3 linked regions of the Homo sapiens genome follow. The protein of the gene in region 2 purifies or fractionates together with the protein of the main gene of each other region. This does not show direct contact. Each region holds a gene or a part of one and is shown on either strand. Other genes may lie near its edges.

Region 1 (3,379 bases), on a different chromosome or scaffold from region 2:
GAAAGCTGGTGAGCGTCCCCCTCTTGGCTTGGCAGGGCAGGGCACCCCGGGCTGGCCCACCTTGGTCAGCTGTCCACCCGTGGGCAAGATGGGCTGCCCCATCATCCCACACAGAGCTGGGGCGAGCACTGGGCTCCGGGCAGGAACCCGGGCCGCGCTGGGCCGCGCTGGGCTGGGCTGGGCTGGGCTGGGCTGGGCTGGGCTGGGCTGGGGGGCAGTCAGGGCAGTGCTGGGGGCTCCTGAGGCTCCGGGGTGGAAGCTGCGGGAGCAGCTGGGCCTGCAGGCAGCTCCCAGCAGGCGTCACCCTGCACGGGCAACAGAGCCAAGGGGCATCCCTCCACCCTGGGCAGGGCCTGCCCTGTGCTCCCCAGTGTGGGTGGGTGCAGCTCAGGGGACCCAGCTGAGCACAGCCAGGGCCTTGGGCTGCTTCCCTGGTGCGGGGTCCCTTAGGCAGGGAGAGAAGCCAAGTGGGGTGGTGTCGTCTCCAATGCCAGCGCCTCGCAAGGACCCCAGGAAGGACAAGAGCCTCTCCTGCCAAGAAAGTGCTTTAATGATTATAAAGTGTCCAAAATATACTGGCAGAAATAAGCGGATCTGAGCGTTTCTCTTCAAACCTAGGATATGCAGGGTGAGAGCATGGCAGGGGCTGGTGGGCCCCAGGGTTGCCTCGAGGCCGGTCGTCCAGGGAGAGCAGCAGCAGGAAGAGCCTCAGGAGATGACCCTCAGGGATGGCTTGTCCTTCTCCAGGGCCTGCAGCCGGTCCTCCATCTCCTCAGACCAGTAAATGTCGTACAGGCTGCACACAGGCCAGAAGGGAGGCATGGGCCCGTGTCCTCCCCCACCCCCGCCTTCCTCCCTGGGCAGCCCTGGCCGCACCACCCGCCCAGCGCGTGCACATACACCAGCTGCTCCAGGAGGCAGCCCGGCTGCCGGACGCTCTCCACCAGCTGCAGGATGCCGGCGTCCCCCAGGCAGTTGTTGCTGAGGTCCAGCTCACGCAGGCTGTGGTTGGCCAACAGGGTTGCGGCGAGGCTGCTGCAGCTGCTGTCACTCACATCGCAGTCGGCCAACCTGGGTGAAGCAGGGCGGGGGTCAGGGTGCCGGGCGTGCCTGGCACCGCACTGACCGGCAGAGCAGGCCTGGGCCTGGGGGGCGCGACGGACACCTGTGCTCGGCAACTCAGGACCCTCAGGTGGGGCCGTCCCCAAGGCTCACCGTCCCTGTGGCCCTGGGCAGGTTCCCCACCACGGACAAGGAAGGCACAGACAAGCGAGGCACAAGCAGCCTCACTCGCCTGAGATCTTCTGCAGGGAGGAGAAAGGACAGGAGAGAGATGTCGTCCACCCAGAGAGCCACACCCACCCCCTTGTCACCTCGACACCGTCTGGCTGCGTGGGCTTCAAAGGAGAAGCCAGCCAGAGACTGAGGAGCAGCTGTGGGGAAACGAGGGTATGGAGGGTACCAAGACAAGAACAGAGTGGACAACAGACTTTAGGCTCCAGAGAGAGACAAGAGAACGGGTCAGACAAAAGAGGATGGGATAGAGAAGACCCAACACCCACTTCCCGGGGTGGAGCCGCCACAGGCCGGACAGCAGGGCCAAGGAGTTGCACTGGACCTCTCCAAGGTGGGGGCCAGGGAAGCTGCAGGACCCCCACCCTGTGAGTGGCTCAGGGGGAACAAGTCTGCAGTGACCAGGACCCAAGGTTCCTCTCCACATCTGGAACACCCACAAGGTCCTGGCAGCCAGGATGGTGTCCCCTGGCAGGGAACTGAAAATCCCCCATCAGGAGGAAGCCCTCGAGAAACGCAGCCATGACTCGGCCTGCAGGGCTCACTGTCCAGGGCTCCCGGGCCTCACTCTGCACCTGGTGCCCAGCCCAGGATGACCAGCCACCCACGGAAAGCCCCTGGCGAGAGGCACACGGGAAACAGCAAACAAAAGACAAAACACTGAGGGTGGAAATTCAGTAGACTGGCTGGTAAATGAGAACATCTCCCAAAAATAAAACAAAACATCGAAAAGAAAATTTGGAGAACATAATTAGAGGGTCACTCCACAAGACATCAGGACAGGCTCATGGGCACACCAAAAAAGAAACATAAGAAAGGAGAGAGAAAAAAATCACCAAAGGTATATTTTCTTAGTAGAACCAAGTATCCAGCACAAAGAACCAAGACCCCCATCAAGGCCAAGCACATGGAACCCCTAACACAGTGAACAAAGAGAGCTTGAAAAGCTGCCAACGAGAAAAAGCAGATCGTGCACACAAGGTCACAGTGGCTCACGCCTGTAATCGCAGCACTTTGGGAGGCTGAGGCAGGCTCATCACTTGAGGTCAATAGTTCAAGACCAGCCTGCCCAACATGGTGAAACCCCATCTCTACTAAAAATACAAAAATTAGGCCAGGCGTGGTGGCTCACGCCTGTAATCCCAGCAATTTAGGAGGCCGAGGCAGGCGGATCACGAGGTCAGGATATCAAGACCATACTGGCTAACACGGTGAAACCCCATCTCTACTAAAAGTACAAAAAATTAGCCTGGTGTGGTGACGGGCGCCTGTGGTCCCAGCTACTCGGGAGGTTGAGACAGGAGAATGGCATGAACTTGGGAGGCGGAGCTTGCAGTGAGCCAAGATCGCACCACTGCACTCCAGCCTGGGCGACAGAGCAAGACTCTCTCAAAAAAACAAACAAAATAAAATTAGCCGGGCATAATGGTGCATGCTATACCCGGCTAAATGATCCAAGGACAGAACAGGGGCACAAGACCCCAAAAATTACCTCCTGCAAAACCTTTTCTTAGAAAGCTGCAAAAGAACGTGCTTTAACAAAGAAAACAAATCTGGAAAAACATCCTGACACAGGCGGGGTTCCCGCAAGGGAGAAAGGTGGGCGGGGCTTCCAGGAAGATGGACCACAGGGTGGCCAGGTAGGCTGGAGCTCCGTGAAGCTCTCAGGCTTCATGAAACATGACCTCTGACTTTCAGAGTTAAAATGAGAACTAAGCCAGAGTGGTGCCGCCAGCCCGCCTTTCCCAGTACATGAACATGCACCCTCACTCTCGCCCATGTGCTCACACTCACATGGACACTCGTGCTCACTCTCGCCCATGTGCCACACTCACGTGCTCACTCGCCCATGTGCTCACACTCACATGGACACTCATGCTCACTCTCACCCATGTGCTCACACACGGACACTCGTGCTCACTCTCACCCATGTGCTCACGTACTCTCGCCCATGTGCTCACACACGGACACTCATGCTCACTCTCGCCCATGTGCTCACACACGGACACTCGTGCTCATTCTTGCCCATGTGCTCACACACGGACCCTCGTGCTCACTCTCACGTGCTCACACACGGACACTCATG
Region 2 (3,751 bases):
TTTCTACTTTCTTCTTTTCTATTTTCTATCATAACGTTCAATTCTATCAAAATTTATCATTCATAAATCATAATGAAGCACGTGCATTTTCAGCTGATTCACTGCAGCTCTTTTTTTCTTGGGATAGAAATCATGTCAATAAAAACCATAGTCGGACCATAAAGCATCAAATGGGACCTCAATATCAAATTGGGCTCAATTCTGGAATACAACTAAAACAAGTGGAGATCTATACACAAGTTATAGGTTGGTGTTGGGGGAGGAGTCAGTGGATGGAAAATTGCTTAGAGGAGATATTAAGGCTAGGGAGACCAATGCTAAGTTGACTCAATTGGATTTTTTTTTAAGGCAGGCCTGGAATCAGGTATCACATGAAGGATGATGGGGGAATTAAGGAATTTGGTCAGATATTGAGGGGGAGAGATTCATGATAAACCCAAATCTCTAGAGCAGATTGTCACTAAATGACAGCAGAGCGGCCGAGGAAGACACACAGACACTTCCAGATGAATTTGCAAAGCAGTTTATTGCAGGGTTCACAAGGGACTTCAGCTCAGGAAAGCTGAAGGGGTATGGAGACTGATGAGGACAGTTGCTGATACCCAGAGTACATGGAGGGATGGGATCTTGGCTATGATTGAGGAGCTTGGCAGATGAGTGATGATGAGGACTGCTGATACAGGAGCTTAGATGGTGGTATCCAGGTGAACTGGAACCACAGGATACCGTGGAGAATCCCGTGGATCTCTGTTGTCACATGCAACTACATAGAACCTCCTTCCTGGTCTGTCTGCATACGTGCAGTTTGAAATATTCTGTGCACCTGGATTTATGAGGTCACAGTGGAGTAAAGGCACCCGGAATCTACTCCGATGACAATTGTTGAGAGTTCTGTTATGAGGGCAGCGTATACTTTGGTTACCACAAACATTAACTACATTAGCAAAAGTTGTACGAAGAAAAGTATTTTGGTTTTTGCAACGCCATCGATAATTGTTAATTGCCCGCATTGCAATGGTGCATCGAGGGGGGTTCAGACTGATGTGCTGGATGGCAAACCACTGAGCCCTCGTAAACTGTGGGGGTCTGGCATGGAGTGAGCCCTCCACACCCATAAGCCCCAACAGAAGAAGCAGACAAATTTGGGAAGTGAACAGTTTTGGAACCATGTTTCCTGTAAGAAAAGAAGAGAAGTAACTACTCCCCGATCCGGTCTCGGTTATGACACACTCTATAGTGTCTCAACCCACAGGCCCCTCTGCTGCCACTCTGGGGTCGCATTTCCTTTTCTTCCTGTCCCCAAAGTGTGCCACATCTCCTAAGCACTAACTTCAGCTCACCTCTCCCTCAGGTGCTGCCCTGTCGCTGCCCCTCCTGTCCCAGCTCTGGGGATTGTTGACTTACCCAGTCTCTGAGCTGTGGCTCCTGTGAGAACTGATCCAGCTGGTTGTTCTGGGGTTCAGGGGCAGCTGGTCTCCCCTACTTGGAACTGTTTAAATAAAGCTTCCCTTGGTGGGTCTGGCCATGCAGAAACCCACAGATTGACACATGGTCCACTTGTGCAATCATCCTTTTTATTTGATGACTTGGCTGAGCAACGGATACCCAAGGACAGCCCTGCTGCTCTTTCTGCTATACGGACTCTAATTCCAAGTCATCCTGTGTTAGACAGAGTTTTGCCGGTGGGATCTGGACTCTGGGTGAAAACTATACGCTGCCGGCAGAATGACCACAGATTTTATAACTGTCCTCTGGCAGGCCCCTAAATGACTAAATGACACGAAGGCAGGCATAGTAGTTAGGAGAAATAGAGCCACAGAGGGCTGTTTGCCCAGGAGAAACCCAGCTTCCCTTCCATTTTTAGTAATATCCTTGGTTCTCTCTCACATAAATGCTCTCCATCTCATCCACCACTCTTGCTGGAAACTTGAGCTATTAATTTCTTGGGGCACAAGATTCTGTAGATAATTAAAACAATCTGCTCCATACAATTGAGGAATTTTTTTCTTTACTCCTCTTGCATTGGATCCACTTTCTCTTAAGTCTTGCCCTGATTATTGATTCCACTTTGTGTAAAGTTACATAACCTAAAAACACACCGAGGACAGTTGTAAAATCTGGCAGAGGATGAATGAACATTTGGTGTCATGAAAGATTCCAACCTAGCACTCGGTATTCCTGTGATCTTTTCAGCCTATGGTATTTTCTACAAAACAGTGTGTTCTGGGGTTGTCATTCATCTTCCTGGTAAGTTTCATTTTGTGATATTAACAAGAATATGGTTCTGTATTTACAAATGAACATTTAAGGACAGAGCACTGTATTCCTGAAAGTATAGAGGTCAAGTGTACAGTTTGATACACAAAGCATACATTTATTCTTGGCCCTCAGAGAAACACAGGAAAGTACTTGTAGACATATAATTGTATTACAGTGTGATAGAGGTAATAGCATTTGTGTGAACATGGTGTCATAGGGACACTGCTGGTGAAGGAAATCACTTGGCTTGAGAAATAAGGAAAACTTCAAAAAAAAGTTTATTTCAGCAGGTCCTAAAGGATAAGCAGGGGATTTTCAGGGGATTTAGAGAAGAGATGAGCATTCTGGGCACAGGGGATGATGTGGGGAAATTGTACAGAGGTGAGAAGTGAATTGCAAAGGTAAGGCCTGGGTACTAACAGATGTTAAATCTGGTCTAGCTTTGAGATTAGAAAATGGAAAGTAGACCCTTAAATGATATAATATACCTTCCAACAGTTAATCTGCCTAATTTTTACTACCGTCCAATTTTCCTGTCATTTAGAAATGCAATAATTTTATCACTGGGGTCCTTAGGTAAATGTGGACACAATGGTGACCTGGTGAGGACTCAATGCGCAGCTAATATTGCTCTGCCTTGAAGTCCTGTTCTGGCCGACATTCATTAGCAGCTTTATCATGAGGCAAGTTTATTTTTTCATGTATATTGTGTGGAGATCATTTTTGTAGGTGATGAGAATGTAAAGGTGAATGATACGTAGAGTATCCCCTCTGTGATGCTGACAGCCACACTGGCTAGAAACATTTGCACTTAAGTGTCTATAGTATGAGGCAAAAGACATAGACTGCAGCCCCAGGGCAGGTACTTGGCTAAACAGTGCTTCTTTTCAGCATACACAGTGCTATTTATGATGTTTGGTTTGGAAGATAAAGTTTGACATTGGAATAGTTCACTAAAAGTTTTCATTACTGTCTTATCTTTAAAAATCACATGATGGTGGTTGGTGCACCATTGGTGTTGTATCAATTAGAGCTGAGTAACAGCTGCGTCTGTGGAAGGGGCTCTAGCTCAGGGCTGTTCTCTGACTCCACTCTCCCTCCTGACTTTTATCCTATCTGTTCAGTGATGACACCTGCCTGGCTCCTGAAGACATCTGTGCTTATGACATATCAGACTTATTGAAGTGTCTTAAGCAGACCATAACCTGCCCAATTTGCAACCATATTCATCCTTTAAAATTGTGGAGTTTTTTGTTTTTTGTTTTTTTTTGAGACGGAGTCTTGCTCTTGTCACCCAGGCTGGACTGCAGTGGCGTGATCTCACTGCAACCTCCACCTCCGCCTCCCAAGTTCAAGTGATTCTCCTGCCTCAGCCTCCTGAGTAGCTGGGATTACAGGCGCTCGACACAATGCCCGCCTAATTTTTGTATTTTTAGTAGAGACGGGGTTTCACCATGTTGGCCAGGCTGGTCTCAAACTCCTGACCTCAGGT
Region 3 (3,751 bases), on a different chromosome or scaffold from region 2:
GAGGCAGAGGTTGCAGTGAGCCGAGATCACACCACTGCACTCCAGCTTGGGCTACAGAGTGAGACTCCACCAAAAAAAAAAGGATATATATATATATATATATATATATATATATATATATATATATACACACACACACACACACACATATATATGTATATATATACACACACATATATATGTATATATACATATGTATATATATGTATATATGTGTATATATATGTATATATATATATATCTGCGTATATAAATAGGCATTTATATTTTTTCTGGTATGTTTCTCCTTTTGTATGTTTAAAATTTTTAATCTATACTCTTATTTTTGTGACATAAAAATCTAGCTAGTTTTCTCCAAAAATGAATTATGAACAATCCATCTTTTTTAAATAATACAAAACATCACCATTATCAAGTGCTAAATTCTTACATATATTTGGGTATTTCTAAATTTCCTATTCTGTTCTATTCATTGATGTCTTTTCAGCTGTTAGTAAACAATTTGTGGAAATAAATAACACATGCACATTTTGATATCTGGAAAAGCAAGCCTTTTTCCATTCTGTTACAAAAAATTAATTTATCACAATAATAAAAGACAGCATGTGTAATTTAAAAACGCTAAAACTTTGCTATTTTTATTTGGCTTATGTAAAAGTGATAAATAGAAAAAGCTCACATCTTTTTTTTTTTTTTTTTTTTTGAGACGGAATCTCGCTCTGTCTCCCAGGCTGGAGTGCGGTGGCACTATCTTGGCTCACTGCAAGCTCCGCCTCCCGAGTTCACGCCATTCTCCTGCCTCAGCCTCCTGAGTAGCTGGGACTACAGGCACCTGCCACCGTGCCCGGCTAATTTTTTTTATAATTTTTAGTAGAGACAGGGTTTCACCGTGTTAGCCAGGATGGTCTCGATCTCCTGACCTCGTGATCCGCCCGCCTCCCCAAAGTGCTGGGATTACAGGCATGAGCCACCGCGCCCAGCCAAAAAGCTCACATCTTAAGAAAATTCAATCTTCCTATTCAAGCACAGGAACCATCTTCCCATTTCAGTTTCCTTCTAAGGTTCCTCAGTAAAGAACGTATTTACATAGGGTACATTGATATAAAATCCATACTGGATTTTATTTGAAGAATATTTAGCCCTGAAGTTGATGTGTTATGGGGCTTCATTCTTAGTTCTCAATATACACTTTTCTATAATGTATAGAACATTGTTTTAAAATCTGTAGATTAAAAATAATCTGCTGCATTGACTTAATTAATTTTGCAAGTTAAATCACTTTAAAACAGTCTATTAGTGTTCTACGAGGGAAATTATAATTTGATTGGAAATCAGCTAAAGTTTTTTTTGTGTGTGTTGCTGTTCATAAAGGGGCCTGTGCCCTGACCTCTCTGAGGTTTCCACAACCAGGGTGCTGTGAGGCCTGCGGAGGTGAGAAAGCCAGGTCCCCCTCCTCCCCCGCCAGGAGGGTATGTCCCCATCATCCCCCGACCTCCCACCTCCTCCCAGCCCAGGCCTGGTTACCTCTTTTGCTTGTCCTGCTTGTTCACGTCAGTGTCCCTGAGCATGACGATCAGATCCTTTCTGGCGACTTTACCCCACCAGGCAGCTCTGTGGAGCTTGTCCAGATCTTCTCGACGGACGTGGTATCTCGGCTCCACGAAGGCGCTGTCGTCGTAGTCTCCCCAAGCACCCACGTTGCTCTTGCCGCTCCCCCTGCAGCAGGGGAAGCAGTGGCAGCACCACTTGCCCATCTTGCTCCTGAGCGTCTTCATAGCGGAGTCGTCGTGGTCTCCAGAAGTGCCCACGTTGCTCTTGCCACTCCCCCTGCAGCAGGGGAAGCAGTGGCAGCACCACTTGCCCATCTTGCTCCTGAGTGTCTTCATAGTGGAGTCGTCCTGGTCTCCAGAAGTGCCCACGTTGCTCTTGCCGCTCCCCCTGCAGCAGGGGAAGCAGTGGCGGCACCACTTGCCCATCTTGCTCCTGAGAACAAATGGCTTCTTCACAGAAGAGGCAGCCGGCATTGAATCAACCTCAGCTACCATCTGCTTTTAACAGCCTGGGGAGGCCGGTAGTAGCGAGCAGATCACGTCTACCAACCAGTTTCACCAACTAGCAGGTAACTCCGGGTTTCCAATCTGTTTGAAGAGAAAAGTCAATCCCAGCCAAAACCTGCCAACCCCAGCAGGTAAGCCCAACCCACCCCACCCAGGGAAAACCCACACCCACCCGGGGAAAGCCCACGCCCACCCGAGGAAGGGCCAACCCCCCCCCCCAAGAAAACACCCAGCCCACCCAAGGGAATGCCAAACCCAGCAGAGAAAAGGTCAAGCCTAGCAAGGGAACGCGAGAGAGGAAACGCCAATCCAAGGAGGAAACGTCAATCCAAGGAGGAACACCAGGCCAAGCGACCAACACCAAGCCAAGCAAAGAACGCAAAGCCAAGCCAAGCCGCTACAGGCCAGCCAAGCAGTTACCCGCGTGCAGCATGCGCGTGCAAGCCGTTACAGGCCAGCCAAGCCATTACGCGCGTGCGGCGTGCGCGTGCAAGCCGTTACAGGCCAGCCAAACCGCTATGCGCGTGTGGCGTGCGCGTGCAAGCCATTACAAGCCAGCCAAGCCGCTGCCGCGTGCGCGTGCGGCGTGCGCGTGCGGCGTGCAGCGTGTGCATCTCAGGTGGCGTCAGTGCATGTGGCACAGACAGTGGCCAATGCGTGCAACCGCGTGTTTAAATCTTGGCGCCACGAATGTCACCGACAGCCTTATGTTCCTGGCAAACTTCATGGGACTCAGCTGAGCTTTCAGGCCATTGAGAAGCCTCTGGTGAAAAAAAAGCCTCTTGAAGCAGGACTGGGGCTAAGCGGCTGGAACTTGAGGATGCTGACAGCCTCCTCTGAAGAAAGCCCCCAGGACACTCCTGGCGGTGCTGTTGTGCGTGGCAGCGTCTGCAGCTCGGAGCTGGGGCTGGAGGAGCTGGCTGCAAATGGCCTCAAAATCCCGGAGCACAAGATGCCCACTGAGCCCAGCGCCTGCCTGAGGTGCCTTTGACACCTGGTCCTCTTTGCTCTGCACCCAGAACACGAGGCCATCAGCGAGGGGGCATTTGGGGCCACAGGATCGCGGCCAGCTCCTGCCCCGGTGCCCCCTGCCCGGTGTCCAAGCCAGGGCCAACAGCTATAGGGCTTCTGGCCTGGGGGGCTCTGCTCCACTGGCATGCAATAGGGTCAAGGTGCAGACCGCTGTGTCCACGCCGGCAAGAGGGGGCTTGGAGGAGCAGTCACAGGACAGTACTCTCCCCTCCTGTGGATGACTCCTTCCTGCCCTTTCCTCTCTCTGCTAAAGCCTCCAACGTTCTCTGTCCCATCCATATGCTCCACTTATGCCCCTGCTTTTGCTTTGATTTTCTCATTAAAATAAATCTGCAGGCTGGCTGGGTGCAGTGGCTCATGCCTGTAATCCCAGCACTTTGGGAGACCGAGGCAGGTGGATCACCTGAGGTCGGGAGTTCGAGACCAGCCTGACCAACATGGAGAAACCTTGTCTCTACTAAAAATACAAAATTAGCCAGGCGTGGTGGTGCACGCCTGTAATCCCAGCTACTTGGGAGGCTGAGGCAGGAGAATCGCTTGATCCCGAGAGGCGGAGGTTGCGGTGAGCCAAGATACTGCCATTGCACTCCAGCCTGGGCAACAAGAGCAAAAGTCCATCTCATAAATAAATAAATAAATAAATAAATAAATAAATAAATAAA

Evidence for each region.
Region 1: the proteins of RNASE3 (region 2) and RNH1 purify together in Homo sapiens (affinity purification with mass spectrometry; 2 studies listed by BioGRID and IntAct, with this or other methods). This does not show direct contact.
Region 3: the proteins of RNASE3 (region 2) and POTEI purify together in Homo sapiens (affinity purification with mass spectrometry; 2 studies listed by BioGRID and IntAct, with this or other methods). This does not show direct contact.

What each region holds. Positions count from the first base shown.
Region 1 is NC_000011.10:493,983-497,361, forward strand, and holds the end of RNH1 (ribonuclease inhibitor), read right to left. Parts: intron 1,072-3,379; coding exon 901-1,071; intron 797-900; coding exon 709-796; 3' UTR 533-708; downstream 1-532. UniProt on the Homo sapiens protein: Ribonuclease inhibitor which inhibits RNASE1, RNASE2 and angiogenin (ANG). May play a role in redox homeostasis. Required to inhibit the cytotoxic tRNA ribonuclease activity of ANG in the cytoplasm in absence of stress.
Region 2 is NC_000014.9:20,889,105-20,892,855, reverse strand, and holds RNASE3 (eosinophil cationic protein precursor), read right to left. Parts: upstream 1,472-3,751; 5' UTR 1,405-1,471; intron 1,175-1,404; 5' UTR 1,170-1,174; coding exon 687-1,169; 3' UTR 508-686; downstream 1-507.
Region 3 is NC_000002.12:130,507,191-130,510,941, forward strand, and holds the start of POTEI (POTE ankyrin domain family member I), read right to left. Parts: upstream 2,139-3,751; 5' UTR 2,046-2,138; coding exon 1,525-2,045; intron 1-1,524.